2 separate regions of the Homo sapiens genome follow, and region 1 is linked to region 2. Evidence: fine-mapped expression QTL. A gene starts in region 2. The other region holds a variant in brackets. All regions are shown on one strand. Distances are between the middles of the regions.

Region 1 (15,853 bases), 180 kb before region 2:
CCCAGGCAGACATGTGCTGGAATTGCTGGATGTATCGCCCAGACATCCAGCAATTCCAGTGCTTCTTCTCAATCCCCCTTCGAATGCCTCTTTCACCTTTCACAAACGTTTCCTCCTGCTCAGGAGGCTTGCCTGGCCTGTGTCTTTGCTCCCTCCTTCCCTTCCCTCTCTCCCTCCATCCCTTCCTCTGCCTTATAGACTCCTCCCTGAGAAGAAGGCCAGCTCCCAGTCTTCCCAGTCTTCCCCTCCCTCAGGCCCAATCCAGCCTGAGCACGGTCTGGATTTAGTCTTTAGGCTTGGTCAAGAGTGTGTTTGCAAACCTCTTCACTCCTTGCTGGCTAGAGCTTCCCATCTTCTTAACCAGGTCCCCTGAGACTCCAAGGCAGGCACCCACTGGGGCTGATCACATGAATAAATTGGGTGTAGTTCCAAGAGGTGGGAACTGTGGTTTTGTAAATTTCACAAGTTGTCTGCATTTCACAAGTGCACAGGTGTACCATGGTGAATCAGAGGCTCCAAGGCAAGGCTCATGGTGTTTAGCCCTGTGCATACACCACCTCATCTCCCTACCCATCTATTCACCCACCCACCCATCCATCCATCCACCTACCCATCTACCTACCCACCCACCAATCCATTCATCCATCCATCCATCCATCTACCCGCTTACCAATTTATCCATCCATCCATCTATTCATCCATCCATCCATCTACCCATCTATTCACCCATCCACCCATCCATTCACCCATCCATCCATCTACCCACCCACCAATCCATCCATCCATCCATCCATCCATCCATCCATCCATCCATCCATGCATCCATCCATCCGCTTACCAATCCATCCATCCATCCATCCATCCATCCATCCATCCATCCACATCCACCTACCCACCCACCAATCCATCCATCCATCCATCCATCCATCCATCCATCCATCCATCCACATACCCTCATCCACCCATCCACCCATTCACTCACCCAGTCATCCATCCATCCATCCATCCATCCATCCACACACCCATCCATCCACCCAACCACCCATTCACTCACCCAGTCATCCATCCATCCATTCATCCATCCATCCACCCACCCACCCAGTCACCCATCTGTCTACTTATCCATTCACCCAGTCACCTATCTATCCACCCAGCCAACCCACCCATCTATTCATCCATCCATCCACCCTCCCATCCATCCACTCATCCACCCACCCACCCAGAATTCATCCATCCACCTATTCATTCAGCAAATACAGACTGGAAATTGCATGGATTAGGTCCTGTACTTGGCTCCAGGAGAGAGCAGAGTTTGCAGAGTCTGTTCAACAGAAATCCAATGTGAGCCATATATGTAATTAATTTAAAATTTCCTAGTAGCCACACTAAAACCAGGTGAAATAAGTGTAATATTTTATTTAACCCGATACATAAACAATATTATAATTTCCACATGCAATCAATATAACAATTATTGAGATATTTTACATTCATATTTTGGTGGCAAGTCTTTGAGATTTGGTGTTTATCTTAGCCTTATAGCACATCTCAATTTGTACAGGTCACATTTCAGGCTCTCGAAACCACATGTGGCAAGTGGCTTGTGCATTGGACAGTGCAGGTCTAGAATATTCTCATGGTGTTGCATGTGGGCAGCAAATGTGGGCTGATCTGTGCCATGAGGAGGCCATAATCAAGGTGCGATGGGAATATGGAGGAGAGGCAACCATGGGTAGAGGAGGCTGAATGGCTTCCCAGAGGAGGCAGCACTGGAGCAGGGCACTGACGGATGAACAGGAGTTCTTCAGGTGCGAAATAGGGAAAAGAAAATCTCCCAATTCCCTGGTGCCCCAAGTAGGGCTCATGAAGGTCCAGGTCAGCTTGAAGAAACCAAGGGCCTTTAATGACCTCCCCACCAGGTGCTCCTTATAGACCCATGGTTCAAATCATCTTATTCCTGCCCCCTGGGCCAGTGTTGACGTTTCCCCATCTTATAGTGACGAACACTGGGGCCTGGAGGTCCAGCTGCTTACAGCCACGGTTTTCAGAGCATCTACCATGAGCTAGAGCTCCACCCCAGATGGTGGGGTTGGAAGTACAAGGAGAAAAGGAGGTGTGGAATAAGGCTCCTTGCTCTGAGCCCGTAAGCTCCCTCTGGGTGGGGGCTCTGTGGGTTGGTGCTGGGAGACTCGCTGTCCCGCTGACCTGCCTTCTCCCATAGATGGTGGCCCTTGAGACCACATGGAACCAATTTCCCAATTAAGCTAATTGGAAGAATCATGGCATGCCTTTCTGGTTATCGGCCTGGGAGGGCAGAATGGTGCCTGCGTGCCGAAGAGTCCATAAACGTTGAGCTATGCTGGCCAGACCATTGGACGGTATCACCTGGTCCAACCACTGTTTATGAGGACTTCCCGAGATCACTGAGGCTTTTAGGCTACTGTGCGTGTGCCTGTGAACTTCCAGGCCCTGTACCTGCATGTTATAGGAGGAAGTGCTGGGGTGGGGGGCTGTGGAGGGGCTCCTGAAACTTGTCTATAACCAGGCATGGCCATCTGGCTCTCACTTGGGTGGACTTTCTTAGGTCTAACTGCAATCTCTCTTGCTGCTGACTCAACATGCCCCCTCCCCCTCCCGAGTGGTTGGGGCCCCAGGTGAGCACTGGCCGGCGGGGCTGCTCACGATTGCTATCCAAGACCAGCCTGGAAAGCTGCCATTTTCATTAAAACCCTTAGACATGAATCTTCCAAAATGTTTCTATGAAGAATCCAAAGGAACCCGTGTCAGGGACATCCTTAGCTGGATGGGCAGCCTGGGAGCGGCGGCATGGGAGCAGCAGCATGGGAGCGGCCGGCCTGGGACAAGCTCCGTGTGACCACAGGCTCATCCTTTCTGCTCACTCGAGGTCTCGGCTTTCCCTTTTGTGGAAAGAGGGAGTTGTTCTGGAATCCACACCCTATGGTCCGTGTGATTTGGTGGGGGCAGCAAGGAGGCCTCCCCCTCCCCTAACACTGCCTCCCTGCTGCCCGGGATCACAGCCGCTGGGCTCCGTCCTGAGGGTTTAGCACTGCCCTCCCCTTTCTCAGATGCTTGCTGCACATTTCAGGGTGGAAAGGGCCCGACCTCATTCTTTCTGGGAGTCCGAAGAGGTTTGAGCAGGGCCCAGCACGTGGCCACTGCAAAGAGCGCTTGCTCTCAAAACCCAAGCTCCACCTTAGTTCAAGAGAGACGCCGATACTTCCCAGGAGGCAGCCACCACCAGGCCCCCAGTTCTAGGGCCCCCGTCAAGGCATGGGCCAGGCCCCATTTGTCTCCTCCACTGCTGAAGAGGCGGGGCCAGGGGTGACAGGAGCAAGCTGCATGAGATCAGGGTGGGGTTCTGGCACCATCCCAGGCTGGCTCTGTGACCTGGGCACGTCATAACCCCTCTTCCTGCCTCCATCCCACATCATCTGTAAAATGGAGGTGACGCCAGCTGCCCTGGCTCCCACTGGACTGTAATTTTGTCTGTGGTTTTCTCCGCCTCCTCCCCTCTCCTGCCTCAGTCGGGACTCATTCAAGCTGATCACCTCCCAGTGGGGTGCTGGTGGGTTCTGGTCACTGTGCAGGAAAGGGTTAACTCAGCAGGCCTGAGTTGTCCACACCCTGCACATTCCAAAGAAAGGTCTGGCTCTGGCCTAGCTCCTGGGAGGTGACCTCTGACCTCTAGCCACTTGAAATATACTGCGTGATAAGTGTCTGTGTTTGCTTGGGGGTCTTGGGCCACCCTAGTGACCGCGCTAATGATGTCATTTACAGTGGGACCTTGGGCTGTGCTGTATCGGCTCATCATCCTGGGGATGAGACCAAGGCCAAGCACACGGGCAGTGAGGCATGTCTTTGCGATGGACCCCCAGTAGGAACCCTGAGCCCCGAGGCGTGGCTGGGCCCCCCTGGCTGGTGCACACCATTCTGGGAGAATTGAGCATCGTCTGCCCGACTCTACTGAGAGAAGACCCCTGGGTGCTGGAGTCTGGTCTCCCCTAAACCCTGCCCTCTAGAGATGCCCAGTTTGCTGGTTCGAGGCTATGTCCTTTCACGGCGCTAAACCCTGACCTCGGGTATCGCTGCCTGGCTGAGTTCTGTGAGCCAGTCCAGCACGTCCCTGAGCCTGAGGGTGGTTTGGGGACCCTGAACTGCAGTGTCAGCATTTCCATGGATGGGTTCTGAAGGCAGGTGATGAGGAGGTGTCAGCCTGGGTTGACTACGAACTTTCAAGTCCTATTTCTGAAACAGCCCTTGGAAGGTTCGGGGGCCATTTTACCCCCTCTAGACATTTTGCTGAGCCTTTGCCTGGCCTTGACACCTGTCTCCACCTGTCCACGTTCCCAGCTCTGCCCACCAGGGACTGTGCCTACACCCAGGGATGGCCTAGGTCAGAGAGGGACAGGCTGTGGACTGAGGTCAGGCGTGAGCCAGCCCTGCCTGCCCCCTACAGTTGGGAATCCTCTGGGCGAGGGAGGCAGACAGGACAGAGGGATGCCGCAGGGGAAACCTACAGGTGTCCCCTTTCCCTGGAAATGGCGGACCTCCTTCTCCAGAGACCCTCACGTGCGTCTCTCTCAGGGACGCCTTGGGCCCCCACGGCGTTTGTGCCCAGCTGCCAGGCCTCTGATAAAGCCGCTTCCTCGCCTCGGCCCCCCTTCCCTGCCTGTGCCTCAGGAAACCCTGGGCCTCCTTCAAGGCCCTTCCCCTGTAAGCCCCTCCGTGTCGGGCTCTGCTGTGTCTTCCGAGACCACACCTGTCCTAGGTGCCTGGGTCCAGGTGAGGCGCTCCCTGCTGCCAGCAGTGGACAGAGACTGGTTTTAATTAAAGCTCCCAGCAACCACCCCTATCGCCGTGGAAACAGAGGTTCCGGTGGAGACGTGGCTCCCAGGCCACACGTGTAAGTAGCGCAGCTGGGAGTGGCGCCCGGAGCAGCCCGAACCCAAAGGCTGATCTTGACCGAGGTGCCCTGCTCCTTCCCGGCCGCGGTCTCCACTCGGCCCACTGCTGGGCCAGGGCCGCAGCGGCCGGAAGGGGCTGTCCCTCATGCACCGTGGCCCTCCGGCCTTGTCTCTCAGCGCCCAGACCCCAGGCACAAGGAGGCAGGGGGCTGGGACCTGCCTGGAGCCTGCTGCCCCAGCTGCTGACGTGGTCGCCCCCGCCCACCCTGTAGACGTGGCCGCCCCCACCCTGCCACGTCGCCACTTCCACCCTGCAGGCAGGAAGCTGCACGCTCTCGCTCTCTTTGTGTAACTTTTGGAGGGTTGTAGTTGCAGGAAACATCTGGATGTGGCCCAAGGAACATAATAAAAAAAAAAGGGAGAGCCGCGGGGAGAAGGCAGGGCTGGGGGAGGTTTGCAAAAGCCATCTGATTTCACTTTGCAAAGACAACTGCAATTATGCCTCTGAGGGTTTGCAGTCACTTCACATTCTAGCCATGCGGTGACGTCAGTGGGAAACTATGAAGCTCGCGGACTGCGTGGTGACACACACCCCACGAAACATGGCTCGGGCCAGCTGCCGGCCATGCTCCAGCCCGACAGCCCACCAACAGGGGTCTCTCCCAGAAGGAGGGAAGCTGTAGCTGGGAGAGGGGGTCCCTAACTTTGGACATGCTGGGTTGTCCCCAATCGCCCTCCGAGCTCCAGCTGTGCCTTCCCCTGCTCAGCCTGCATCTACCCCATCTGACCCCACAGGCTCCTGGACAGAAATGGCCCGGCCTTGCCTAGAGCTAAGCTTCCACTCCAAGGCAGAGCTATGGGGGTCCGGGCTGGCAGGGGGGCCATGGCCAGGCCCTCAGGGCTCCCTGCTTTCCAATGGCCCCAGGATCAGCGGTTTCCACAGTGTCCTGTAGCATGCGGCTGGGTGTCTCCATCGTCCCAGCATCCTGTGGGGTGGGCCGAGGGTCTGTGTCCCTCTATGTCCCGTGGGGTGGACCCCGGGTCTGTGTCCCCCTGTGTCCTGTAGGGTATGGCTGGGGTCTGAGTACCTCTGTGTCCTGTTGGGTGGAGCTGGGGTCTGTGTCCCTCTATGTCCTGTGGGGTGGGGCCGTGGTCTGTGTCCCCCTGTGTCCTGTCAGCTGGGGCTGGGGTCTGTGTCCCTCTGTGTCCTGTGTGGTGGGGCCGGGGTCTGTGTCCCCCTGTGTCCTGTCTGGTGGAGCTGGGGTCTGTGTCCCTCTGTGTCCTGTGTGGTGGGGCCAGTGTCTGTGTCCCCCTGTGTCCTGTCGGGTGGAGCCGGGGTCTGTGTCCATCTGTGTCCTGTGTGGTGGGGCCGGGGTCTGTGTCCATCTGTGTCCTGTGGGGTGGGCCGGGGTCTGTGTCCCTCTGGGTCCTGTGGGGTGGGGCCGGGGTCTGTGTCCCCCTGTGTCCTGTGTGGTGGGGCTGGGGTCTGTGTCCCCCTGTGTCCTGTCGGGTGGAGCTGGGGTCTGTGTCCCTCTGTGTCCTGTGGGGTGGGGCCAGTGTCTGTGTCCCCCTGTGTCCTGTGGGGTGGGGCCGGGGTCTGTGTCCCTCTGTGTCCTGTGGGGTGGGGCCGGGGTCTGTGTCTCTCACAGTGTCCCCAGCTTCTGGTCACTATCTCTGTCCCTCCTGCCCTGGGGTCATCCTGAGCTGGGTCCTGCCTGCCCTGAAATCTCAGGAGCTGGGGTGGTTCTCTCTGCTGCTTCTCTGCCCAAGAGTCCAAGGGCTTCCCAGGGACAGTGCTGCACCCTGATGGAGCCCAGGCCTCTGGGCGAAGGACACAGCCTCTCCCAGACCTGCCCCAGACCCCTGAGGCTTTTTAGTGCAAGGGGACCCCCAGGGCAGGAAGGGTTTGCCTGCCAC[G/A]TGGCAAGTACTTCTGCCTTGAGGCCGTCACAGACAGGGTCTCTGGACTGTGGTGTAGTGTCCTGTCATCTCCAGGTGTAGTCTCAGAAACGCCTTGAAATGAAGCCTGAAGGGGAAGCCCAGTTCCATGGTGTGGACGAGCGTGTCTGCCGGAGGCCTCGGAGTCGCATCCACCGGTGTTTATTGACAGCTGACTGGTGCTGTGCCCTGAGACCCAGGCCCTGCCCTCTGGCACTCAGTCTACCAGGGGCCAAGGCCTGCACCCTCCCTCTGGGCTCACCTTGGTCAAGCCTCTGGTGGACTTTTAAGGCCCACGGGGAACCCCCCCACAGACCCCCTTCCCACTCTGCAGGTGGGCCGCTGAGGCCTCTGCAGACGGGCCTGAGCAGCAGGGCCTGTGCTTGTCGAGGCCCCATGGCTCCCGCCATGGCCAGGGTGAGATGCAGAGGGCCACGGAGCCTGCGGTGGGGCCCTGGGGTTTGACACTGGGGCCCTGCCTGGAATGGGGCCTTGGTGTGATGGGAGCTGGGGGTGGGGTGGAGCCTGCCTGGGCCGAGGGGCTGTCTGGTCGGGAGCGATTCTTCAGCAGCAGAGACTTGAGTCATGGCTGGGGCCTCCTGGCCTCTGGGGGGACCTTAAGACATTTTTTCCATGGAAAGTAGCTGCTGGCTCTCTGCTTACCGGGGAGCTCTCTGTCCCCTCCCACTGCCTGCTGAGGGTTTGGTGGGGGCTGCTTCACTTCTTTGCTGGACTTTCCACTGGCCTGGATGGGCCGAGAGCTCCAGGCAGGGACCGGACAGCCAGACTCTGGACCCAGTCCCAGCCTGCAAGTGCCTGTCCTCTGAGCCTGAGTTTTGCCTTCTGCCAGGGTGAGGGCTCTGGGTGAGGCTAGACGCTGAATGGCAAGGACTGGGCTGTGATGGGACGCTGGGCTCCAGGTCTCTGTTAACTCTTTAAGGGAAAGGTGGGGCGGGATATGGAGGGAGTGGCGCGCATCATCCTCCCGGAGCCTGCAGAAATCCAGGCGAAATTGGCACATCTTTTGGGAATTTGCAGGTGCTGCTGAATTTAGGAGAAGCCACCCTGAAAACTTGCTCAGGGGTTGCCCTGGTCTCTGACCCAACAGCTGGTGGGGGAGGCACCCACCTGGCCTGTGTGACCCCCAGCTAGTTCTTCGCTGGGCGACACTGGCCATAAACAGGTCAGTCAGAAGCCTGCCCTGAACCCCTCGAAGGCCTCATCCCTCCCTATGGGAGACCAGGATGGCGGCTCTGGAGCTCAAGGCTGTGCACTGGAGGTGGGCCTGGGCTGTGGGGCAGGATCTGCCGTGGTCAAACGTGGGTCAGTGTCAACTGGGAAAGCAGAAGTCTGCGGCCAAGCTGGGGACCTCCCTTCCCTCTTCTCCCTGCAGCATGTGGCGGGGGCAGGGTGAGGTCAGGGAGAATGGCAGATAGGACAACCTCATGGGTCATGAGTCATGAGGCTGGGTATGGGTGCAGCTAGGAAGGGCCCAAGGTGAATTTTCTCCAAGAGAGCTTTACGAAAGGGACCTGGGGACTCACAGGGGCGGCTTCGTGACCATCCCAACCCCAACCCCTCCTCCAGGAAGCCCGTCTGAGCCAGCCCTGCCAGTCTGAGCTCCTACCTCTGTGGATCCTGCCTGTCGTCCACACCTGACTGCCATGTCCTCTAGGCTTTCAGGGAACACAAATCTTATCTCTTGGGCCTGTCCTGGCTGGGCCTCCCTCCTGCTGGCTCTGTGGCCCTCATCGCTGGAGGCCTCGCCCCTCAAGGCTCTGCCCTGTGTGCACCGTGGGCCTAGCGGGGCTCTCACAGCACTTCACTGGCCCTGGTGGTCATTCGGGGTCAGCCCCTGTGCACCTCTCCCGTTACCCACGGAGGACATTTCCCAGATGCTGGAGGATGCTTGACCTCTAGGCCCCTGTGACCAAAATCGAGCCTGAGTCTGAAGCTGTGGCCTAACTGCGGCCCTTGGGGATGGGGAGGCCCGATGCCACATGCCTCTCTGCCCCTCCCGTGTGCCCTCCATGCAGGCATGAGTTCCTCGGAAGGGACTCCACCACCCACTCCCTAGGATGGAGCGTGATGCTCACTGAATCCTCTGGGGTCCTGTCTCCAGGAGACTTTCTGGGTGACAGATGGGACACTGAGGCCCAGAAAAGGGAAGATGTCAGCTGAGGGTCATGCAGCAGGTTGGGGCAGAGTCCAGACTCAAACCCAGCGCCCTGATTATCAGCCAGGATGAGCTCTGTTCTTGGTATCTGCACTGAGAAGCGTGTGCATGAGAAGGAAACTTCCGGAGGAGGGCTCGGTTAAAGTTGATGATGCCCTCGCTCAGCTGGCCTTTCTGCTGTTGGGGCTCATTCTTCTGGAATGTTCCAGCACCTACCCCTCCCACGATACACTCGGTTTCCAACACTCCAGTATGCGCTTCTGCCGATGGCTCTCCTTCACGTGCAAGCATCGGGCCCTCCTTCCTGGAGGCTGTGCATGGAGCTGCTTTTCTTTCTAATGGTGCTCCTGGGCCCTGCTGGACGCCACTTTGCTGGGCATTTTGCTTGTTTTCCCTGTGGGGCTGTCACCAGCTGGTGCTGTCATGAACACTCCTGTCCAGCATTCGGCAGGTGCTCTCCTGGATGGAGTTCAGAAGCGACGTTGCTGGGTCCAAGGGGCATGCCCCTTTTACATTCTAAAATTCTATGGGACCTCAGTGGGGCTTTGGTTCTCTGAAGAGGAATTGTGAAGGGCGCCCTGGGGCCTGTTGGAAGCCTTCACCCAGCAGGAGTCACCTATGTGGGGAGCTGTGTTGGGGTCTCTGCCCCCTTCTGGAAGGTGTCAAGCACTTTTGCCAAACAAACAACTGCCTCAGGCCCTCCCTGGAGAAGCTGAGACAATAGGTGACCAGGGCATGACGGGTGGTTGCAGGAGACGGGACCACAGGCTCTGGAGCTCCTTAGCTGGACAGAGCAGCTCCCTGAGCTCAGAGAAGCCCTGTCCTGCTCGTTAGAGGGCTGTTCAGCCTAGTCCTGGATGGGTGTGGCTGTCAGCAGGTAGGTGACTTTTATGAGACAGTCTGCCCACACTTCATTGCCTATCCCTCTGCCTGTGGGGAGGCGGGGTGCTGTGGGCTGGGCAGGGCGGTAAAGGAAGGCCTGTGGCTCCATGGTTGGGGGCCTTCTCCCCCTCCCTCTGCTGGTGCTGTCTCCTGACCTGGCTGCTCTGAGCCTCTCTAGAGGGCTGTGGACCTGCTACTTCATCCTTTGTGTACATCATCCTGTCACAGGGTCCTCGGAGTTCCTGAGAGGACAGCAAGACCCCACTCTTACTCCAAGAGCCCCACATTGGGAGGGGGCTCCAGCCATGTGCCCATGGGGGGCTGAATGGGAAAAGACACATGAGTGAAAGGTGCCACACATGCCCGAGGTTTGCATCCTGGTGAAAATCTTCCACCTTCTTTCTTTAGGCCAAGAAGGGCTGTGCAGGGTCTGCCTCTTAGTTCTCTGTTACTATGTAACAAACCACCCCACAACTTAGTGGCTTAAAATAGCAGTAATCATTCATCATCACTCACAGTTTCTGTGGATCAGGACTTTGGAAATGGCTTAGTCAATGGGTGGTTCTGCCTTGGGGTTTCCCAAGAGGCTGCGGCCAGATGTTGGCCAGAGCTGCGTCATCTGAATGTCGGCCAGGGCTGGAGGAGCCACTTCCAAGGTGGCACACCACGAGGCTGGCACGCTGCTTGCCTCCACAGTGCTGCTTGAGCATCCTCTCAACATGGAGGCTGGCTTCCCCCAGTGCAAGTGATCCAGCAGGCCAAGGCAGAAGCTGCCACGCCATTAAGGAGCCAGACTTGAGAGTCATGCATTGTTATGTCCACAGTGTTCTTGTGGTCACCTGACCCCTCAGATTGCCAGCTGTGGCCCAGCCAGGTCCCAATGTGGCCCTTCTCCGAGATGGCTCTTGCAGCACTGCCCTATGGCCCATTTTCTCACATGCCTGGCTCCTCTCAACGGGACCCCTGGGGCTGATTTGCAGGAGGAGTTTGGTCAGTGCTTGAGTTGAACTGAGCCCCCAGGCCTCCCAGCTTGCCTTCAACTCAGGGTTACGGAGCTCATTGAACTCTGAAGGGCCTGCGTGGGCCATTTTGTAGCTTGGGCGGAGTGTACAGTGAGAAGGACATGCGTTCTAATTCCCACTGTGTGGCCTCGCACTCATCACAAAGCTCCCCGCCCTTGGTTTCCTCATCTGTAAAATGAGAGTATTGATGGAACTTTCTCCTGGAGGTTGAAGCACAGCAGCTGGGCGGGGCTGAAGCTGTGGCAATGGGGGCTGTCATAACCACACCAACAGCCGGCTGTGTGGCCTATCAGTGCCCTGACCCCCACCATGGGAGAGGTGTGCCGGCCATGCTGGCTGTGGGAGGAGCTGGAGAGGACCGAGAGAGAGGACAGAGGTGGGGGAGGGCACACACCTCCCAACTGCAGGCCGTGGTCAGTGGCTGTGACAGGAAAATCCGGGAGGTGGACCCATTATCATGAGGCTCAGGCCACGCAATCTGCTTGGCTGTGGAGTGAAGCCAGTGCAGAGATGTGGGGGTGGGAGAGCATGGGGTGGCGTCCGCTCGGAGGTAGGAGGGTAGGGCGAGGGCTTCAGCCCCACCTGGGACTCCTGCCAGCACCTCGTGCCCCAGGCTTCGTGGTTGGGGGGCACACGGGAGTCCTTGTGGGCTGGTTGGTTTCTGATGCGTTTTCTGTCTCTTTGTCGCGGCTGAACTCTGCCTCCTCCTCTTATGGACATGTCAGTTATAGAGCCCCTTGGTGCCTTTTTTTTCTGCCTCAAGACAGAGGACAGCTTGAAGAGCAAAGGTGACAATTGTGCTGGAAGAAGGGAAAACATAATCCTTTACAACTACTCAACCATAAAAGCCCAGACAGGCAGGAGGTTTGCACTGTGGGTGAAACGGGCTGCTGGTGTGGTGGGATGGGGGCCTCTGGTCAGCTGGGCCACCTGGCATCAGTCTGTGGGTGGGTTGCCCGGCCCTGCCCCACCTCTGGAAGATTCTACATCTGTGTAGGTTGCAGGTCTAGAGTCTGTCCCCAGCGTCTCCACGGTAATGGTTTTCATTCCCTGTCACTCAAAGCTCCTTTTAAGTAGAAAAGAATAAAAAGTTTGAAAAGGAGAAAGGAGGATTCCCACTTTAGGTCCATTTGGCCCCTGACCTCGGCTTTAGAGGGCGCCGGTGCTCGGAGGTCTCTGCTGGCTACGAAGAAGTGGGGTTGGGGGGCTGCCTCTGCCTCCTACCTGTCCCCCGGCCACCTTCCTATGAGGCCATCAATGCCCTGGAAGCCTGCAGCTGCTGCAGTGTCCCTGGTCTGCCCACTTCTTCCCAGGTTCCCTCTGAGATCTGCCCTTCCCCCCACAGCGGGCTGCCAGTCTGACCCAGTCACTCCTCAGCTGGAAACCCTCCAGGTGAAGCACAGAGTTGGGGCCTAAAGCCCGCCTTCCAGCCCTGGGCAAGCCGGGCCACTCCTCTGTCCCTGGATGCCCGCCTCAGCAGGGCCGCCTCCCCTTTGGGTGTTTTGTCCCCAGAGTTTCTAATTCAAACCTTTCCTGACTCCCTTCCACCTGGTCCTCTCTTCCTCATCCCTCAGAGCAGGGCTGAGACCCCAGAGACCCTGGCTGGGTCGCGGGCCCCTCTGCACGCCCCCCATCCCCCTGCCCCCTTGGAGCTGCAATGCAGGTGTCCACTTTCCTCACTGGGCTGTGACGTCCCTGAGGGCCCCGGCCTCCCCTCCCTGTTCCCAGGGCTTGGCCCAGTGTAGATGTCCAGTGGGCATCAGGGTGGACGCCATGGTGACAGCTTAGATGCATTTTTGGAGATTGTGATGGTGGTGTTGGGGCCAGGGAGGAGGAACCCCCGTGAGCACACAAGCTGACAGCCCCATGGCCACAGAAAATACACAAGGCCCTTTTCCTCAGTTGTGGCCCCAATTCCAGAGTCAACACCAATAGGTGGGCTCCTTCCTGGGCCTTGGGGAAGCCAGTCTGGGACCTAGGTGGCCAGTTAGTTCTGGGTTTGCAGCCTCGGCTCCTGGAGACCCCGCTGTAGGCAGAGCTCCTGTTCTGTGCTGGAAGTTTGAGTCCTTTGTGGAGGACACAGTGGGGGAGATGGAGGATGGTTTATGATGCTCTGTGCCCCTCCTGGGCAAGGGGATGCCAGGGCTGGTGAGCACATGGGGTAGGAGCTGAGGCATTGTGGGGGTCCTGGCCATGTCTCTCACTTGTGAGGACCTGACACTCACCGGGGCCAGCTCTTGTGGATGACATCGGTGTCATGAGCTCTGATGGGACATCATGGGGCTTCCTGGATAGGAAGGGAGTCCTGCCGGCCTCTTGGGGGTAGAGCCGGCAGCCTCTGCCTCTCCTGGAGGCCCCGGTGTCATGCCTCAGCTCTTCCCCACACCTCTGCGCTGCTCACCCAGCCGCCCCCTCCCATTAGTGCCCACTCTGCACCACACGCGCCTCTGCCCGGCTCACCCAGCCGCCCCCCCATTAGTGCCCACTCTGCACCACACGCGCCTCTGCCCCGCTCACCCAGCCTCCCCCCCATTAGTGCCCACTCTGCACCACACGCGCCTCTGCCCCGCTCACCCAGCCTCCCCCCCATTAGTGCCCACTCTGCACCACACGCGCCTCTGCCCGGCTCACCCAGCCTCCCCCCCATTAGTGCCCACTCTGCACCACACGCACCTCTGCCCCGCTCACCCAGCCGCCCCCTCATTAGTGCCCACTCTGCACCACACGCGCCTCTGCCCCGCTCACCCAGCCTCCCCCCCATTAGTGCCCACTCTGCGCCACACGCGCCTCTGCCCCGCTCACCCAGCCGCCCCCTCATTAGTGCCCACTCTGCACCACACGCGCCTCTGCCCCGCTCACCCAGCCGCCCCCTCATTAGTGCCCACTCTGCACCACACGCGCCTCTGCCCGGCTCACCCAGCCTCCCCCCCATTAGTGCCCACTCTGCACCACACGCGCCTCTGCCCCGCTCACCCAGCCTCCCCCCCATTAGTGCCCACTCTGCACCACACGCGCCTCTGCCCGGCTCACCCAGCCGCCCCCCCATTAGTGCCCACTCTGCACCACACGCGCCTCTGCCCCGCTCACCCAGCCTCCCCCCCATTAGTGCCCACTCTGCACCACACGCGCCTCTGCCCCGCTCACCCAGCCTCCCCCCCATTAGTGCCCACTCTGCACCACACGCGCCTCTGCCCGGCTCACCCAGCCGCCCCCCCATTAGTGCCCACTCTGCACCACACGCGCCTCTGCCCCGCTCACCCAGCCTCCCCCCCATTAGTGCCCACTCTGCACCACACGCGCCTCTGCCCCGCTCACCCAGCCTCCCCCCCATTAGTGCCCACTCTGCACCACACGCGCCTCTGCCCGGCTCACCCAGCCGCCCCCCCATTAGTGCCCACTCTGCACCACACGCGCCTCTGCCCCGCTCACCCAGCCTCCCCCCCATTAGTGCCCACTCTGCACCACACGCGCCTCTGCCCGGCTCACCCAGCCGCCCCCCCATTAGTGCCCACTCTGCACCACACGCGCCTCTGCCCCGCTCACCCAGCCTCCCCCCCATTAGTGCCCACTCTGCACCACACGCGCCTCTGCCCCGCTCACCCAGCCTCCCCCCCATTAGTGCCCACTCTGCACCACACGCGCCTCTGCCCGGCTCACCCAGCCGCCCCCCCATTAGTGCCCACTCTGCACCACACGCACCTCTGCCCCGCTCACCCAGCCGCCCCCTCATTAGTGCCCACTCTGCGCCACACGCGCCTCTGCCCGGCTCACCCAGCCTCCCCCCCATTAGTGCCCACTCTGCGCCACACGCGCCTCTGCCCCGCTCACCCAGCCGCCCCCTCATTAGTGCCCACTCTGCACCACACGCGCCTCTGCCCCGCTCACCCAGCCGCCCCCTCATTAGTGCCCACTCTGCGCCACACGCGCCTCTGCCCGGCTCACCCAGCCTCCCCCCCATTAGTGCCCACTCTGCACCACACGCGCCTCTGCCCCGCTCACCCAGCCTCCCCCCCATTAGTGCCCACTCTGCACCACACGCGCCTCTGCCCGGCTCACCCAGCCGCCCCCCCATTAGTGCCCACTCTGCACCACACGCGCCTCTGCCCGGCTCACCCAGCCTCCCCCCCATTAGTGCCCACTCTGCACCACACGCGCCTCTGCCCCGCTCACCCAGCCTCCCCCCCATTAGTGCCCACTCTGCACCACACGCGCCTCTGCCCGGCTCACCCAGCCGCCCCCCCATTAGTGCCCACTCTGCACCACACGCGCCTCTGCCCCGCTCACCCAGCCTCCCCCCCATTAGTGCCCACTCTGCACCACACGCGCCTCTGCCCCGCTCACCCAGCCTCCCCCCCATTAGTGCCCACTCTGCGCCACACGCGCCTCTGCCCCGCTCACCCAGCCGCCCCCTCATTAGTGCCCACTCTGCACCACACGCGCCTCTGCCCCGCTCACCCAGCCGCCCCCTCATTAGTGCCCACTCTGCGCCACACGCGCCTCTGCCCCGCTCACCCAGCCGCCCCCTCATTAGTGCCCACTCTGCGCCACACGCGCCTCTGCCCCGCTCACCCAGCCGCCCCCTCATTAGTGCCCACTCTGCGCCACACGCGCCTCTGCCCCGCTCACCCAGCCGCCCCCTCATTAGTGCCCACTCTGCGCCACACGCGCCTCTGCCCCGCTCAGCCAGCCGCCCCCTCATTAGTGCCCACTCTGCGCCACACGCGCCTCTGCCCCGCTCACCCAGCCGCCCCCTCATTAGTGCCCACTCTGCGCCACACGCGCCTCTGCCCCGCTCACCCAGCCGCCCCCTCATTAGTGCCCACTCTGCACCATACGCGCCTCTGCCCCGCTCACCCAGCCGCCCCTCCATTAGTGCCCACTCTGTGCCACATGTGCCACTGCCCATGTCCCTT
Region 2 (15,853 bases):
TGGTGATTTATGCTGCTCTGTCCCTGGGCTTGAAGGAGGGGCAGCCCCTCAGCTGCTGAGAGCCCTGCTTCCTGGCCCTCCATCAGACCATGATAAAGAGCATGAGCCGCCATGCTTGAGAAGCCGCCATGATGAAAAGCGCCTCCAACCTCCAGCTGCGTGTATATGTTTGATCAGATGCCAGGGCCAGCTGTGTCTGGTCCTGCTTGTGTGGCTTGATAAATTGGGCTGGGGGTCCTGGCACCGTGGTGTCCCGGGATGGGAGCTCTGGGAGGAGAACAGCTCCTCTGCTGGACTCTGGGTTGGGGAAGGCTGAGGGTTGGGGAAGAGGAAGAGGCTTCAGCTTCACAAAGTGGTAGAAGTTCAGGTGCGGGGGAAGGGCTTCAAGTAAACCACTGAGTCAGCGGATTGCATTTTCAATGGAATCATGGGGCCTGGAGTTCACTGGACCACAGCCTGCCTGGGTTCTTCCCAGCTCACTCCTCTCACCCCCTCTCACCCCCTCCCACCCACTCCTACCCCCTCTCACCCTCTCTCACCCCCTCCCACCCCCTCTCACCCACATCTAGATGGAGCACAGGCTGCAGGCTTGGACTGGGGAGACTGGGGTCAGACCCACGGCTGCTTCTCCGGAAGCAGAGGTATACACAGATGTGACTACACAGTGTCCCAAGGCCTGTGCCCCCACCTACCATGCTTGACTGTGTGCCCCAAGCCACACCTGCTTCTGTGCCCACCTGCTCCAGTGCACACCTGCCCCATGCACACCTGCTCCAATACACACCTGCCCCTGTGCACCACTGCTCCCATGCACACCTGCTCCCAGACACATCTGTCCCAAAGACTGACTTATTCACATGCACACCTTCATATCCAGAACAGAATGTGCTCCTAACAGGCAGCATGGGCAGGGGCACCTCACTCACAGAAAGGGGAGGGCAATTTGCTGTGGGGAGGGAAGCAAAGAGAGGAGACTCTGGAGTGGGCTTGGAGCCTTTTGGAGGAGATGCTGCATCTGCACTGGTGTTCTGGGCCCTCCAGCTGGCCCCACTCTCACACCCATGGTGGACAGTGCCACCGAGGAGAGGTTCAGCCTATGTGCTAGAGGGACAAGGAGACAGGGTGGTACACATTCATCAGAAGCCAGGGTCCCCTCTCACTGGCCAGGGTCCCCTCTCACTGGCCAGAGTCCCCTCCCACTGGCCAGGGTCCCCTCTCACTGGCCAGAGTCCCCTCCCACTGGCCAGAATTCCCTCCCACTGGCCAGAGTCCCCTCTCACTGGCCAGGGTCCCCTCTCACTGGCCAGAGTCCCCTCCCACTGGCCAGGGTCCCCTGCCACTGGCCAGAGTCTGCACCCCTCACCCCTGCCCCCGCCTTGGGGTGTGAGAATCCACAATAAGAGAGCACCTAGGTGGGTAAAAGTCTCTACTGTGCCAGAAAACAGAGCCCCTCAATCCTCAGATTTCTGCTAAAGGCCCACGGACTGGGACTGTTTTGCAGGAATCCAGTTTTAGGGGGATGAATTGTGTCCCCCTAAAATTCGTACATTGAAGCTTTGCCTCTCAGAATGTGGCTGTGATTGGAGATGGGGCTTTTAACAAGATAATTAAGTTTAAGTGGGATCATTAGGGTGGGCTCTCATCCAACTGACTGGGGTTCCCGAAAGAAGAGGAGATGAGGACGCAGACACACACAGAGAAATGACCGTGTGAGGGCATGGGGGGATGGTGCCGACTGCAGGCCGAGGAGGGAGGCCTTGGCTGAAACCAGTGCTGCCGTCACCTCAACCTCGGACTTCCAGCATCCAGGACTGTGAGGGAATAAATCCCTGCTGTCTAAGCTGCCCCATCTGTGGCACTCTGCTGTGGCCGCCGAGCTGACTCACACACCCGGGAAGCCTGGTGACCTGGGGCATGGCCCCGGCCCCTCTCTCACCCTCTCCTCTACTCTCCACTTGGCAGACACAGGCTGAAGAAGGCTGCAAAAACAAGGCAATGAAGGACATGCTTTGTCCAAGGGCTTTAAAGTGGCGGCCTTCCCCAAGTAATTTTTCAAAGAGAGTGCTGGCTTGAAAGGGGCTCCCTCCCATCTGCCCCGCTCCAGTACGTAGGGAGAGTCCTGCTGGCTCTGTGGGCACAGCGGTGGCCTCTGGTCTGCTGAGAAGCCACAGCTCACATGGAGCAGTGGTCAAGGCCAATGGGTCAGAAGGTAAACTAGGGCCAGTGGGGGTCTGGGCCCCTGGAACCGGCAGGACATGCGGTCAGCCGCGGGCCGGCCCTCGGACCCGGCGCCTCCTTGGTTTGCTCTGCTGCTGGTGTGCAGGCTGCACGGTGGTTAAGGGCTGCGTTCCGGGCTACTGGGTTTAGCCACACCCTTGCTGTTCAGCCTCCAGCAAATAGTTTCACCTCTCCGAGCCTCAGCTTCCTCCTGCCTCAAAGGGTTGTTGCTCCATTGAATGAGATGATGCAGGTAAGCAGGTGAAGCCCTGGAAGGCGGCAGGGGGCTTGGAGGAGGCAGAAGAGGATGAGTGCCCAGCGGCAGGGAGCAGGGAGGGAGGGGACTGTGGCCAGGCCTCCCTCACCTACCTTCTCATCTGAGCTTCACAGGGACCCCCCAGCGGTCAGTTTCTTCACCGCCCATTCACAGATAACAAACTGAGGCTCAGAGACAGAATCCTCTTGCCCAAGGTCATGTGGCTAGTGGCTGGTGCTGCTGGGATTCTAACGGAAGTCTGTGTGACTCTGGAGTTGGCCTGGTCCCAGGACATCAGCTGAAGGACACAGCTGCAGCCCCAGGTGCCGGATGCAGGTTCAGAGCATTCTCCTTGCGCAGCTAGAGGGAACTCCTCCCCTGCATGGGACAGAGTGGGGCAGCTTCCAGCCCCTCTGCCAGGCCGTGGCTCACCCAGGCCCTCCTGGGCCCACTTCAGCAGTCTCTGGACCATAAATGCTTAGAGGGCAAGCAGATATCTGCCTCCAGGCACTCCAAGAAGACCTTGTTCCTCCACCTCCTCCATGGGTCTAGGAGAAGAAGAAGGGACAATCTGGCTGCCCCTCAAGGCCTTTGTCTTGGGAAGCAGCTGGCCATTTTCCAGCCAGACGTGACTCTGGGAGGCTGGTGTGACCCCTCAGGACTGGTGGTGAACCATCAGGTCCACATGAGAGCAACACCTGATGGTTGCCATGGCCGCTCTGTCCGGACCACAGCTCTGCCGCTCGAAAAATAAATGAGAGGAAACACAGCCTTGGAAGGAGAAGTTGGGCCATCGGACTCCACGTGTAAGGTGCAGGGCACCTGGCCTGCTCCACTCTCTGCTAGGCACTGTGGGAAACACGCAGTGATGGGTGGTGGCGCTCCCGGTGGCCCAGGAGTACACAGGGTACAGGACCTGGTTAGCCTTCTGCGGTGAGTGCCATGAACAGGAGCAGGCAGCCGGGGAGGGCTAGATGGGAAACGATGGATAGCAGAAGACAAGGAAGACACACATGCAAAAAAGGGGCCACCTCTGCATGGGCGTGGGAGTCACTGCTGCATTGCAGGTCAATGTGGAAGGGACCCAGGCACCTTGCTCACCACATACTCCCTAAAGCCTAGAGCGGTGTTGGCAAGGAGTATGCGCGCAATAAGCAGTTTTCCAAGGACTCTGGTTTTGCTCAGTTGTGGGAGGGCATGGAACATGGTGAGTTTGGGACAATCTGCACCAGTTGCTGTTGTCTGAATCTGGGCAGGGTGGTCCTGGCGGCAGGCGTGTGGTCCGGATGCCATGGGGAGGCAGGCAGTGCACACTGGGCTCCAAGCATGGAGACCTGGGTCCAAATCCGGACCCTGTCACGGATGAACTGGGTAAGTCCCCTACCCTCTGTGGCCCCTGATTTCCTCATCTGTGGATGGGAGAGATGCCAGTATTCCCTACCGGTGCATGAGAACTGATGCACGTGTGGGTGAAGAGTGTGAGGCAAAAGCCTTAAGATGTGGCTGATATTCTTAGCTTGGCAACACAGTTCGAATCCTGATTGGTACTGCCGGGCCATTCTGCCATAGTCCCTGGCTGACACATCAGGCCGCCAAGTTTGGGGACTTCTCTCTGAGTTTCCTGGTGGGATAGAAACTCATCTCTCCACCCAACTCAAGGCTCAGATGAGGGTGGAAACTCACATTTGACAGCTTTCCAAGCCACCGCACCACTTGCTCTCCAAGAGAGGATAAAGTGCATCTGTCATGGCTGCTTGAGCTGCAAGACTGAGCCATCTTACCATTGCTGAGAAGTCAACTTTTGGGGGACCTTGGGGTGGTCACTTGAGTGTCAGCTCTTAAGGCGCCAGTTGTGTTAATTCAGGGCAAAGTTTAGATGCTGGCTGTGAGTTACAGGAGGGCTTGCTGACTGGCACGGATGTGCACATGGGACTGTCAGAAAGGAACTCCACTTGTGCTTGGGGAAAAAGAAGCTGGAACCAGAAAGCCTCCACTCTCTTCTGATAACCAGGCCATGGCCTGTGTCAGCACCCCTAGTCTTCAGGGGTGAAGCTGGCCTTGCTGGTAGGGGCGGGGGCACTCCAAGGACCAAGCACAGCTGGGGCTGGCGCGGAGTCTGGGGTTTGATGGAATTTCTCACTCATTGAAGTCCACAGGGAAAGTAAAGGGCCAGTGGCTGCAGGTTAACCAACGCACAGACACGCACACAGGCACACACACAAACACACACATGCACACAACTCACACACATTTTTGCCTGATCACATATGCCTTATACAAGTTGTAAAACAAAATAAAATCAACAAGGAAACAGGTCAGAACTAACATTTGCTTTACTGAATGTATCTCAAGCACCTCCCCACGTCTGTGTGTGAAGAGCTTCTCATTCTTTTCCTGCGAAATATTTGATATCTATGCAAGCGCATGTGGCAGATATGGAGACTAAAAGCCTCATCACCAAGTTAGCAACAGCGACCTATCACCCAGCTCCGGAGCCTGCCATGGCTATCCTGGCAAACCTAACCTCGGACGCCTCTCTCACCTCCTGTTTCCAGAATGGTGAGAATTAAAGAGCATTTGGGGAATTTCACGCCCAGTCTGGAGATGTAACTGGAGAGGGGAGTCCCAGCCCTGTCTGGCATCTCTGGCTAAATTGTTTGTTCAAAGGGAATGGGGATGGCCCAGGGTTTGCAAATCGTTCTTAATTCATTCTGATTCCCTCCTTTTAAAAAACTAGCCCTGCAGCCCTTGGGGAAGGGGTGTGGGTCAGGCTTCAGGAGGCTGTGCAGGGAGGCCAGGCCTGGGGAAGCTGGAGGGAGAGACGCCCACCTACCACCCAGAGACTGGCGGGCCTCCTGCTGGAGGAGACCCCGAGGGGCTTAAAGAAGCCAGGCAGGAGAATCAGGGCCCCAGCTCTTCTCCGAGAGCAGCCGATCAGGAATGCCTTCTCCCTGCGCCAGCTGTCACTCCCAAGGGGATGCCTTCTTTGGTTTCCTTTTTATTGCAGAGGGGCCACCAGGGAGTGGGCAGGAGTGAGGGGTGAGAGCCTGGGGGCCGCAGAGCCAAACTTCGCCTGATTAATAACCCAGATGTTCCCGTCCAAGCACATGGAGGTCCCGGGAGCTCTTGGGAAGTCAGACCCCAGCTCGGTCCCGTGCCAATCTGCAGTTAGGAGGCAGGTCCTCGGTCCGGGTTGACACGTAGGCCACAGTCTTGGGCGCCCTGATCTGGCTGGATGGGAAGTTTAGTCTCCACCCAGAAGAGGAGCTCTGAACTCCTCCACGTTAAAGAAAAAGTTAGGCGGGGTAAACTGCAACTTTCTTTTTAACCCGAAGTGATCAAACCTCGGGGCCCCTCTGCACTGGTTCTTGGAGCATGGCCAGGTGCGGGCACCTGGGGTGGGAACAGTGGGGGGACCAGGGTGGGCCCCTGGGCTCCGAGGCCGCCCCAGGCCCGCCCGCCTACCGGCTCTCAGAGAAAGAACAGGGGGCCGCGCCCGCCCCACGTCCGCTCCGCCCCGGGCCAGCCCCTTCCTCGCTGCGACTCGCCCGCTGTCCCCACCCCCTCGCCCGCGGCGCCCAGTGGGAGGCGGGGGCTGGCCTCGCCGAGCCCAGCGCCGGGCTCTGATTTGCTGCGGGCGTTGGGGATCGACAGCCTCCGCGGCTGCCTTCCAGGAGAGAGGGAGGGAGGAAAAGGGGGAAAAAAGTGCTCCGCGCCGAAGGCGAGGTCCGCACTCTCCGTCCCCGCGGCTGGCGCAGGACCTCACTCGAGCGGAGCGCCCACGGGGAGCGGGTCGCGGGGCGGCGGCGGCGAGGAGGAGGCGAGAAGGAGTTGGAGGAGGAGGAGGAGGAGGCGAGGGCGAGCTAGCCCAGCGGGGTCCCGGCCGCCCCGCGGGCCAAAGTCGAGCCCTCCCGCCCGTGGGCGAGCGCGCCAGCCGCCCCTTCCAGAACAGCCGCCGCCACAAAGAAGAACGGGGGGTGCCGAGGTCCCCATGACCTCCTAAAGTGGTGCGGTCCCTGCTGAGTGCGCTGCCCGGGCCGTGACCCGCGCCCCTGTGCGTCCCCGCGCGCCTCCGAGCGCCCCTGTGCGCCCCGGCCCGCGCCCCGCCGGCATGGACGTCCATACCCGCTGGAAAGCGCGCAGCGCGCTCCGCCCGGGCGCCCCGCTGCTGCCCCCGCTGCTGCTGCTGCTGCTGTGGGCGCCGCCTCCGAGCCGCGCAGGTAAGGGCGCCCCGGGGCGCGGGGCTGCGGGATGGGGCGCGCGCAGCCCGGGCGCCGCTGTCATCCCCGGGCGCCTTCGCCCGCAGAACTTTTCTTCCTTGGCCTGTGGAATGCACGGGCCAAGACCACGAATGCCATTTGCTGGGGGCCCCCCCGAGATGACGACACGCAGACACAATGCCCGCGGGCGCGCCGCCGCCCCCTCCCCAGACGGGCGGGTCGGGTGGGGCTGTCGCGCGAGCCGAGGAAGGACCGAGGGCTGGATCAGCAGGAGGGGTTGTCCACGAGGCGGGCAAACTTTTGTCCCAAAAACCTTCCTTCTCTGTCCCACATCACAGGCGCCCAGCTTGGGCCCTCACAGCCCTACAGCAGAACTTCCTCTGCTCCAAACCGGGCAGGGCCGCCCCCTAGAGTTACAGCCCTTCAAATCCCGGGACTCCTGGGGATGGGGGGAATCCCAGAAGCCTGGGCCCCCAGCACTGAACTTCCCCCAGGCACTGTCACTCTAGGCTGAGCTGGCGCCCTGCTTTCCCCAGGGACAGCGTTTCCTGCAGCCTTGGTCACCTAAGTGTTCGGGGGCACTGGGGACCCCTGCAGGGTGGTAGACAGCCCTGCTCCTAATCCCACCCCCAAACTTCTTGATCCCTGGAAGGCAGCTTTTCCTGGATTCGCTGCTGAGAGATGGGATGCGTGGAGCAAAGCCAGAGATGGGCTTGCAGGCGGGGCTGTGAGTGGTTGGGATGATATGCAGATGTGGGATTCCTTCTGCCAAGGGTCAGCCCTTAGAAGGAGGCTTGCTTCCCGGGGAGGGCGCTTCAAGGCGGGGACTGTCTGCGTCCCTGCCTGGGTTCTCGAGGGTTCAACTCTCCCTGGCGCAGCTTCCTGACGGGGGAGTTTTTCTAGGCATCGCTCTTGGTAGTTAGTGGCGGGGTGGGTTTTCACAGACTCTCGAACATCAGAGCCCCCAGCCCTGGAAGGTCCCCCGAATCCTTATTGACAGGCGGGGAGATGGAGGCTCAGAGCTGTGTGCTGCCAGGTCAGGAGAAGTGGCGGGCAGAGCGATGGGACGGTGGGCTCAGCGAACGTCTGGACCAGCCCGCCGCCTGCCAGCAAGAATGCTTCTCTCTGCTTCACGATTGGAAGACAAGTGGGAAGAATCATTGTCCGTGTTCCGCTTGTCAATTAAAACACTCTTTTCCTTTTTCCCTGGCACGATCAGTGCTTGTTGGGCTAACTGGATGAGCTGGAGTCTGGGTGTGGGGGCTGCCCTGGGGCTCTGGGGGAGGAGCCAGGAGCCTGGCCTGGCTCCCAGGACCTGGGATCTCATCCCTGGGCCGCCACCAACTCTCTCCTGACCCTGGGCTAACTGGGCTTGTGTTTCTCCAGGGGTTAGCTGAAGGTGGGGGACAACAGAGGTCCCCAGAAAAGTGGAGAGGAGAAGGAAGGTGTGGTCAGGGACTGTGCCATTGCCGGGGGACTAGGCCCTGTCTCAGCGCCTCTGGGGACTTTTCCCCAGAAACTCAGGAGGGAGTCCTTCAGGGGAATCGTCACCCTAGACAGCTGGGGCAGGGCACTGCCTGGGGACCATGCACCGGACTGGGCTTGGGGTTCCATTTCCCTCCCTGCCCATCTCCCCACCTCCACACTGTCTTTTTCCCTCTCTGGTTGCCCTCGCTAATCGAAGTGCGGCTCGTTGGAAGTGGGAGTGAGGATGGCCCAGAGCAGCAGGCTATGGAGTTGGACATTTTGCTTTTGTCAGAACAGACTTTTAGAAGCATGTGGAGAGACCACTTTTCTTAGTGAGTTTTGCCAACGTCTCTCCACCTCCCAGGGTGGGACCTATTTGGAAGTCATCCTTCGAGCATGGCCAGAGGGGGCGGCTGTCCACTGGAGATGCAGGCGCTGGGGGGAGGGGGCGGCTGTCCACTGGAGATGCAGGCGTGGCGGGGAGGGGGCGGCTGTCCACTGGAGATGCAGGCGCTGGGGGGAGGGGGCGGCTGTCCACTGGAGATGCAGGCACTGGGGGAAGGGGGCGGCTGTCCACTGGAGATGCAGGCGCTGGGGGGAGGGGGCGGCTGTCCACTGGAGATGCAGGCGCTGGGGGGAGGGGGCGGCTGTCCACTGGAGATGCAGGCGCTGGGGGGAGGGGGCGGCTGTCCACTGGAGATGCAGGCGTGGCGGGGAGGGGGCGGCTGTCCACTGGAGATGCAGGCGCTGGGGGGAGGGGGCGGCTGTCCACTGGAAATGCAGGCGTGGCGGGGAGGGGGCGGCTGTCCACTGGAGAGGCAGGCGCGGGGGGGAGCCACCAGCAAGTGCCTGCTGTCTTCTCCATCTTCGGATCTGCCAGATGTTTTCTGAGGGTTTTCTGAACACAGTTCTTTTGCCTGCTTTCTTTTGGCCAAGTGTGTGAAGGAATGAAAAGTAAGATTGCATTTGGGGCTGCTGAACAGTGTAACGGGGAAGGAGAGTATGGGAAATGAAACATGACCCCAATATTTGGAAATTGAGGTCATCTCCTCTACACGCCATTGGTTGACTCCAGTCACGTGATTGCTTTTTGCAATAATTTGTGGGGAGAGTCGGCCAAGTTTTGTGAGACTTGACAGGTATCAAATGGTTAAATTTCCTCTGACTCAATCAAGTTGGCTGGAAAGACATCCTTTTCCATCCTCTGCCCCCTCCCTCCCTCTCCCCATAAAAGAGCAGTGAGTGGGAGGAGCTCAGAAGCCCCAAGAATTCCCCAAGCCCTCTCCCTGCTGTGGTCCAGATTTGCCGGAGGGGTTGGAGTTTTGGTTGCTACCCAGGGCTGTGCCCACCCAGCAGTGCGGCAGCCCCAGGCAGGGGCGTGCTCCCAGTGCCAGGCTCACAGTGGTTTCTCCAGTGATGTTACTCCTGGGCTGCTCCTGCGGGGCTGGCCAGAGCCTGCTCTTCACCCCGCCCTGCAGATATTTCTGGACTCCCCACCGCCACGCCTCAGCCGAACACAGCTGGTGCTGCCCGTCCCGCCCTGCCTTCTCGCTGCCTGGCCTGTCTGCCTGCCCTGCCTCCTCCCTGGACCGCCCCATCCCACCTCCTGGGAGATAGACCTTGATAGGTGGAGTAGGGGCTGTGCAGAGCAGTGAGCTGCCCCGCTGGAGGGCGAGGATGAGTCCCCAACACTTCCCGAGGGCACCCACATAGGAGCCTGAGCCAAGCTGCATCTGGAACAGTGCAGGACCTGTCCCTGCTCGGTCACGTGACGTGGCTCTGGGAATGGCCTTGGGAGACAATCACACATGGGAATGGAGGGGCTGGCACTTGCCTGGCCTGTGGTGAGCATCAGCTGCACCATCTCACTGCACCCTCACCCGGGCCTGAGAAGGGACAGAGCCTAGGAGTCAGGGGGCAGGGATGCCAGGCAGATGTCTTCCATTCCTGCTGTGGGGCCCTAAGCCAGCAACGGCCCTTCGCCTGGCATGGTCACTCTTTGACTTGTCACAGTTCCCTCTTCTCACTTCCCATCGGTTTATCAGCTCTCCCCGGGGAGAAGGCCAGGGCCCTGAGCTATAGTCCTGGCCTGGGGGCCCAGTCCAAACAGGGTCCTGGGAGCAGAGCCATTCCATTTGGCCAACACAGCTTTTAAGTTCCTTTCTTTCTCCTTCCCCCTCCATCCTTCCCTCCTTCCTTCTTTCCTCCCTCTCTTCCTCCCTCCCTCTCTCCCATCCCCTTCCTTCCTTCCCTTTGTCCCTCCATCCCTTCTCTTTTTACTCCAGTGCCTTCAAGAGGGATGCAGCAGCCACAGTCTCCACCACTTCCCAGGCCTCTCTGCACATCAGCATAACCTGCCTGGACCCTGAAGGCTTTTGCCTTTTCACCTGGGTCGGGCCTATCTTGGGGAGACCGAGGCAAATGGGATGGGACCCCTCGTTTCCTTCCAGGAGCTCACAGTCTGACAGGCAGACCATTGTGAATTTTACTCAGGGCCCTCCATGGGATGTGCTGGGTCTTGCATCCGACAGTCTGGGAGGGTTAATTGCACTGGGGAGAGCTGGGGAGCTTCCTGGAGGAGGTGATGTGAAACTGGCCTTCCCTCCTTCTCTTCTCCTTCCTTTTATTGCAGAAATGACCCTCCTTCGTGGGGTCCTCCTCCACCTCTGGCTTTAATCTTGCTCTCTTCCCTCCTTCTGACAGGACATTCCACACCGTGTCCCAGAGCTCTCCTGGGCGGCTCCCTTGGCTGGAAAGCCCCTCATTCACGGGCTTGGCAGGTGCTCCCAGTATCTGTTTGCCAGGAGAATACAAGTGCCCCTAAGGGAAGTGGCAGATCCTGGCAGCTTCCTTAACCCTTTCTCTGCCCCCGTTCCTCCTGTTTCCCTTTGACGAGCCCTGCTGGCCTGGCACAGTGAGCCCAGTCTGCACAGCTCTGCAGACAGCTCCACAGCTGTGGATTAGGATGTGGGGGCCTCTGGGGGTGATTTTGGGTACCTGTGCTGGGTGACAGGTGGTCGGATGTGGGAGGGGACATTCCTTGGCAATCAGATTACTGAACTCCAGGCCAGCAAGGTCGGTGTGAGGCTGGAGCTGAGTTTCCCTGCCTCTGAGGGGCTGTCGGATGGGCTGGGCGAGGACAAGTCACTGCACCTCAGCTTCCCCTCGTGAACATGGGGAGAACCACATTTCTTGCTTTGAGGCATGGTTGTGAAGATCGATTGAGGCCACACCTGTGAGAAGCTTTGCAGGCTGCCTGACCTGTACTCGGCACTGGCTGTGTGGGGACGTTACCATCGCCCCCATCTTCAGTGGTGGTTTTGCAGGAGGAAAGAGCAGTGTTCCCACAGCCCTCTTTAGCTCCCAGAAGCACAGGCGAGGGAGGTGTGCCTGTGTGGGGCCTGGCCCTGCTGAGACCCCTGGGGCTCTGCTGTTGCCCGCTTAGCCGGTCTCTGCTGCCCCTTTGCCTTCCTTGGCCTCGGTTCTTTGCTTTCCCACGGAACCTCATGGGGTCATTGTCCAGGCCGTGGGGTGTGATGCATGTGAAAAGCTTTAGAAGCCAATTCCAGGGTTTGCACTCATGTGTGCGTTTGTGTGTATGTGTGTCATGTGTGCGTGTGTGTGTGTGTGTGTCAGGCCGTGTGCACGTGTGGACAATGTGTATATCTCCCCGCGATCTGCCTGCACACATGTGTTTGTGGGTATACATGTGTGTTTGAGTGTGCACGCATGCGCATCCTTGCACATGTACCTGCGTTCACATGGGTGTCCCTGGCTGACTCCACGTGCAGGGCCTGGTGTGTTTGAGGAGCTCGTGGCAGGGCGACGTTTCTCTCCTTACCGTGACCCGGCCCCAGCTGGACGGGAGAGGAGGAGATGGCACGTGGAACCTGCCGGTTGAGCGTGAGGCTGTGGGTTCTGCCGCAGGGCAAGCCGGGTCCAGCTGGATCCGACAATTTCATGTCTTTTTAAACTCCCGGGAGGGCGATGTTACATTATGGCTCCCGCTTCTCCTCTATTTACATTCTCCCATATAATTGACTCGTCTGCTCTCTCTCAGTGCTTTGCCAAGTGTCGGTTTTAAAGTTTCTGGCCTGGCTGGTGGATGTGCCTCGATCCTGCAGGCGGAGCCCACAGCGGCCCTTGTGGTGGTTACTACTGAGTGTCAATTTGATTGGATTGAAGGATACAAGTATTAATCCTGCGTGTGTCTATGAGAGTGTTGCCAAAGGAGATTAACATTTGAATCAGTGGGCTGGGGAAGGCAGACCCACCGTTAATCGGGAGGGCACAATCTAATCAGCCGCTAGCAGGTGTAGAGCAGGCAGAAAAACATGAAGAGACGAGACTGGCCCAGCCTCCCAGCCTACATCTTTCTCCTGTGCTGGACGCTTCCTGCCCTCGAACATCGGACTCCAAGTTCTTCAGGTTTGGGACTCGGACTTGCTCTCCTTGCTGCTCAGCTTGCAGACAGCCTATTGTGGTGGGACCTTGTGATTGTGTAAGTCAGTACTTAATAAACTCCTATATATATATATATAATATATATATATATATTTCTATTATTTCTATTCCTATTAGTTCTGTCCCTCTAAGGGAACCCTGACTAATACAGCTCTGCTCATAGGCAGGACTGCAGGACTGCAGCCACCAGGACATGGCATAGGGACCAGGGTGGCCTGCTGGCAAAGGACAGGCAGCCGGCAAGACTCCTGGATTCCTATCCTGGCTCCAGTGTCTACCAGCAGTGCATTTTCCCACCCTGTGCCTCACTTTCCCCATCTGTAAGAAGGGGGTGGTGACTGTAACTACAGTAGGGTTTTAGTGATGTCTAATGTATTACTCATATAAAGCACAGAGTAAGACCCCATTACTGCCCTTGCCACCAGGGGCCCCAGTGCAGCAGGAGGCTGTGAGGTGGTTTGGGGCCCTCTACTCGCTGGCCTGTGCGTGCTCCCTTGCCATCCTGTGTGGTGTCACACTGCTGCTTCCCTCACTGGGTACGCAGGAGAAAAGGTAAGGCAGTAAGCACCAGTGGTCAGTTCAGCGGATCGCTCGCTGCTCGCTGCCTCTGAGGCTCTGAGCCTGAGCCAGGAAGGTGCATCCTTGGGCAGTCGCGGGCCAGGCCAAGTTCAGCCCGCAGAGTGGCCCTCCCCTGCCTCCTCTGGCCACTTGCTCTTTACAAGGAACGGAGGTCCAGGAGGTGGATGGACCTGTGCACCTCCCAGCTGCAGGCCTCTGTTCTGTCTCTGTGATGTGATGGCGGTGAGTGGTGGCTGATCACTGAAAGGAGGTGTTCCAGGCAGGGGTGGGTGAAGTTGGTGCGGGCGGGGTGTGGGGGGGGCTTTGCCATCTCAGATGTTGTTTTTGTGCCAGCCCAGCCCCAGGCCACTGGAGAGAAGACCGTGGAATGAATGAATTGGTGGCTGGATGCTCAGTGGAGGGGTGCGGGTCACTTTGAGTTATCCATGTCAGATAGTCCGAGCCGTCACACCCTCAGCTTCCTATCAGCAGAGGAGTTTTTCTGGAGGAATCTCAAACTAGGTAATAACCTCATATTAGCAGTAAATGTCACCATCCTTTGATGACTCAGACCTAAGAAATGGAACCACAGCCTGACCCACTTTTCTCAAAATTTAATTACTCAGAGCTCTGGGGACATGGGCTCAGCCTATTTGCCGAGATGTCTCTGCCCATGAAATGGAAGCTTCCTTTATTTTCTGTTTCCTAGACCCGTGTTCTTGTAGGGAAATTAGCTCTTCTGTCCTTTTCTTCCTTGCCAGGACCTCGGCAATAGGGTTTCTGGTGGCCTCTTTTTTTTCTGTAAATAAATGCCACAAAATGACATAAAAACAGTGTGGTGATTCCTCAAGGATCTAGAACCAGAAATACCATTTGACCTGGTGATCCCATTACTGGGTATATACCCAAAGGATTATAAATCATCCTACTATAAAGAGAAATGCACACGTATGTTTATTGCGGCACTGTTCACAATAGCAAAGACTTGCAACCAACCCAAATGCCCATCAATGATAGATTGGATAAAGAAAATATGGCACATATACATCATGGAATACTATGCAGCCATAAAAAAAGGATAGTTCATGTCCTTTGCAGGGACATGGATGAAGCTGGAAATCATCATTCTCAGCAAACTAACACAAGAACAGAAAACCACAAACACCACATGTTCTCACTCATAAGTGGGAGTTGAACAATGAGAACACACGGACACAGGGAGGGGAACATCATGCACCAGGGCCTGTTGGGGGGTGGGGGGCTAGGGGAGGGAGAGCATTAGGAGAAATACCTAATGTAGATGACAGGTTAATGGGTGCAGCAAACCACCATGGCATGTGTATACCTGTGTAACAAACCTGTGCGTTCTGTACATGTATCCCAGAACTTAAAGTATAATAAAAAAAATTTTTTTAAATGTGTGTATGTAGCAGGAGTGACTTAAGTTGAAAAACTCTGACCCTTGCATTGGGAAACAGTGATCTCCCAGTGAGAACACATGAGCATCGTAACCGTCTTCCATTGGAAGCGACCGTCTTCCATTCTGCTGGCGGGTGGCCTGGGGGACCAGCACTCTTTCCCGTGTGTGGGTACAGAGGGAACAGATGGGGTCCATATGCAAAGACATTGGGTGTGTCAGCAGGTTTGCTTGGCAGCATTTATGGACCCCTAACATGAGACGGACCTGTGCGGGGGGCACAGGTGAGCGATAGGCGAGCCGTCTGTGCCCTACTGGGTCTTCCGCTGCGGCGGGGGAGTCAGCCATCTGAACAGGTGGTTTTACCCAGTGAGGTGCAGTAGAAGTGGGAGTAGGGTGTGGCCAAGGCCAGTCTAGGGAGGCACCTGCCAGCCCCATGGGGCGGTGGCCAGTCAGAGACCAGCCTGCTTCTCCAGGGCCAGCCCTTTGGGATGCATGCGCCTGAAGGCAGGCTCCCATTGGTGGATGCAGAGGGCACGTTCCCGTGCATGTTCTTCCTCTGGCTCTTGTTCATATTTTCATATTTACACTGGACCCTGCTCTGAGGGTGCTCCCGTCAGCACCTGTGATCCTCAAACCCGCCCTTCGTGCCAGGTGGGATCGGCCCATTCTGCAGATGTGCCAGTCTAGCTCCTTGAGTCCAGCTGGCACAAGGGGATGAAAACCACCCTCCACGTCCCAGTGGTCACACGGCCTGCATGTTGGTGCAGGTCCGTACAGTCACATGCATGGACGCAAGCAGCCTCTGTCCATTCTCAAGGCCAGGTGAGGGCGGCGTGGCTCCGCTCCCTCCTGTTTGTTTGCTGGCGCCAGCCTCCATGGCAGCTGGGTCCCAGTGCTTCAGAAGGGGAGCCATGGCCCCAGGCAACAGTGCGTACCTGAAGCCTCTGCCTCGGTTTCTTCTTCTTCCTTTCAGATGCATAAAAATGCACATCAAGCCTGGGCACCATCTGGTGGCCTCTTTATTTTTTAAATAAATGCCATAAAATGACATAAAAACAGTGTGGCGATTCCTCCAGGATCTAGAACCAGAAACACCATTTGACCCAACAATACCATTACTGGGCACCACCTCTACAGAAATTTCAGAAACAATTAGCCAGGTGTGGTGGTTCGTGCTTGTGGTCCCAGCTACTTGAGAGGCTGAGGTGGGAGGATCACTTGAGCCAGGGAGGCTGAGGCTGCAGTGAGCTG

What was found.
Region 1: its variant is fine-mapped to the expression of COL5A1 in whole blood (TOPMed, PIP 0.92).

Annotation. Positions count from the first base shown.
Region 1 is chr9:134,451,156-134,467,008 of GRCh38, forward strand. All of the region lies in intron 1 of LOC105376311 (a long non-coding RNA gene), which reads left to right. Among named protein-coding and RNA genes, the nearest start is that of MIR4669, 80 kb to the left of the region's middle. RefSeq lists enhancers at 3,194-4,029, 4,373-5,310, 5,311-6,247, 10,763-11,263. The variant G/A (reference allele first, on the strand shown) is at 6,843.
Region 2 is chr9:134,635,604-134,651,456 of GRCh38, forward strand. It overlaps COL5A1 (collagen type V alpha 1 chain), which reads left to right and starts at 6,200. Exons shown (of 66, transcript NM_000093.5): 1 at 6,200-6,693. The coding sequence starts at 6,585. It overlaps COL5A1-AS1 (COL5A1 antisense RNA 1), which reads right to left. Exons shown (of 2, transcript NR_138049.1): 2 at 13,782-13,981. LOC124902300 (a long non-coding RNA gene) reads left to right here and starts at 12,451. Exons shown (of 2, transcript XR_007061842.1): 1 at 12,451-12,661; 2 at 12,788-14,603. RefSeq lists enhancers at 7,179-7,885, 9,141-9,725, 11,708-12,507, 13,232-13,731.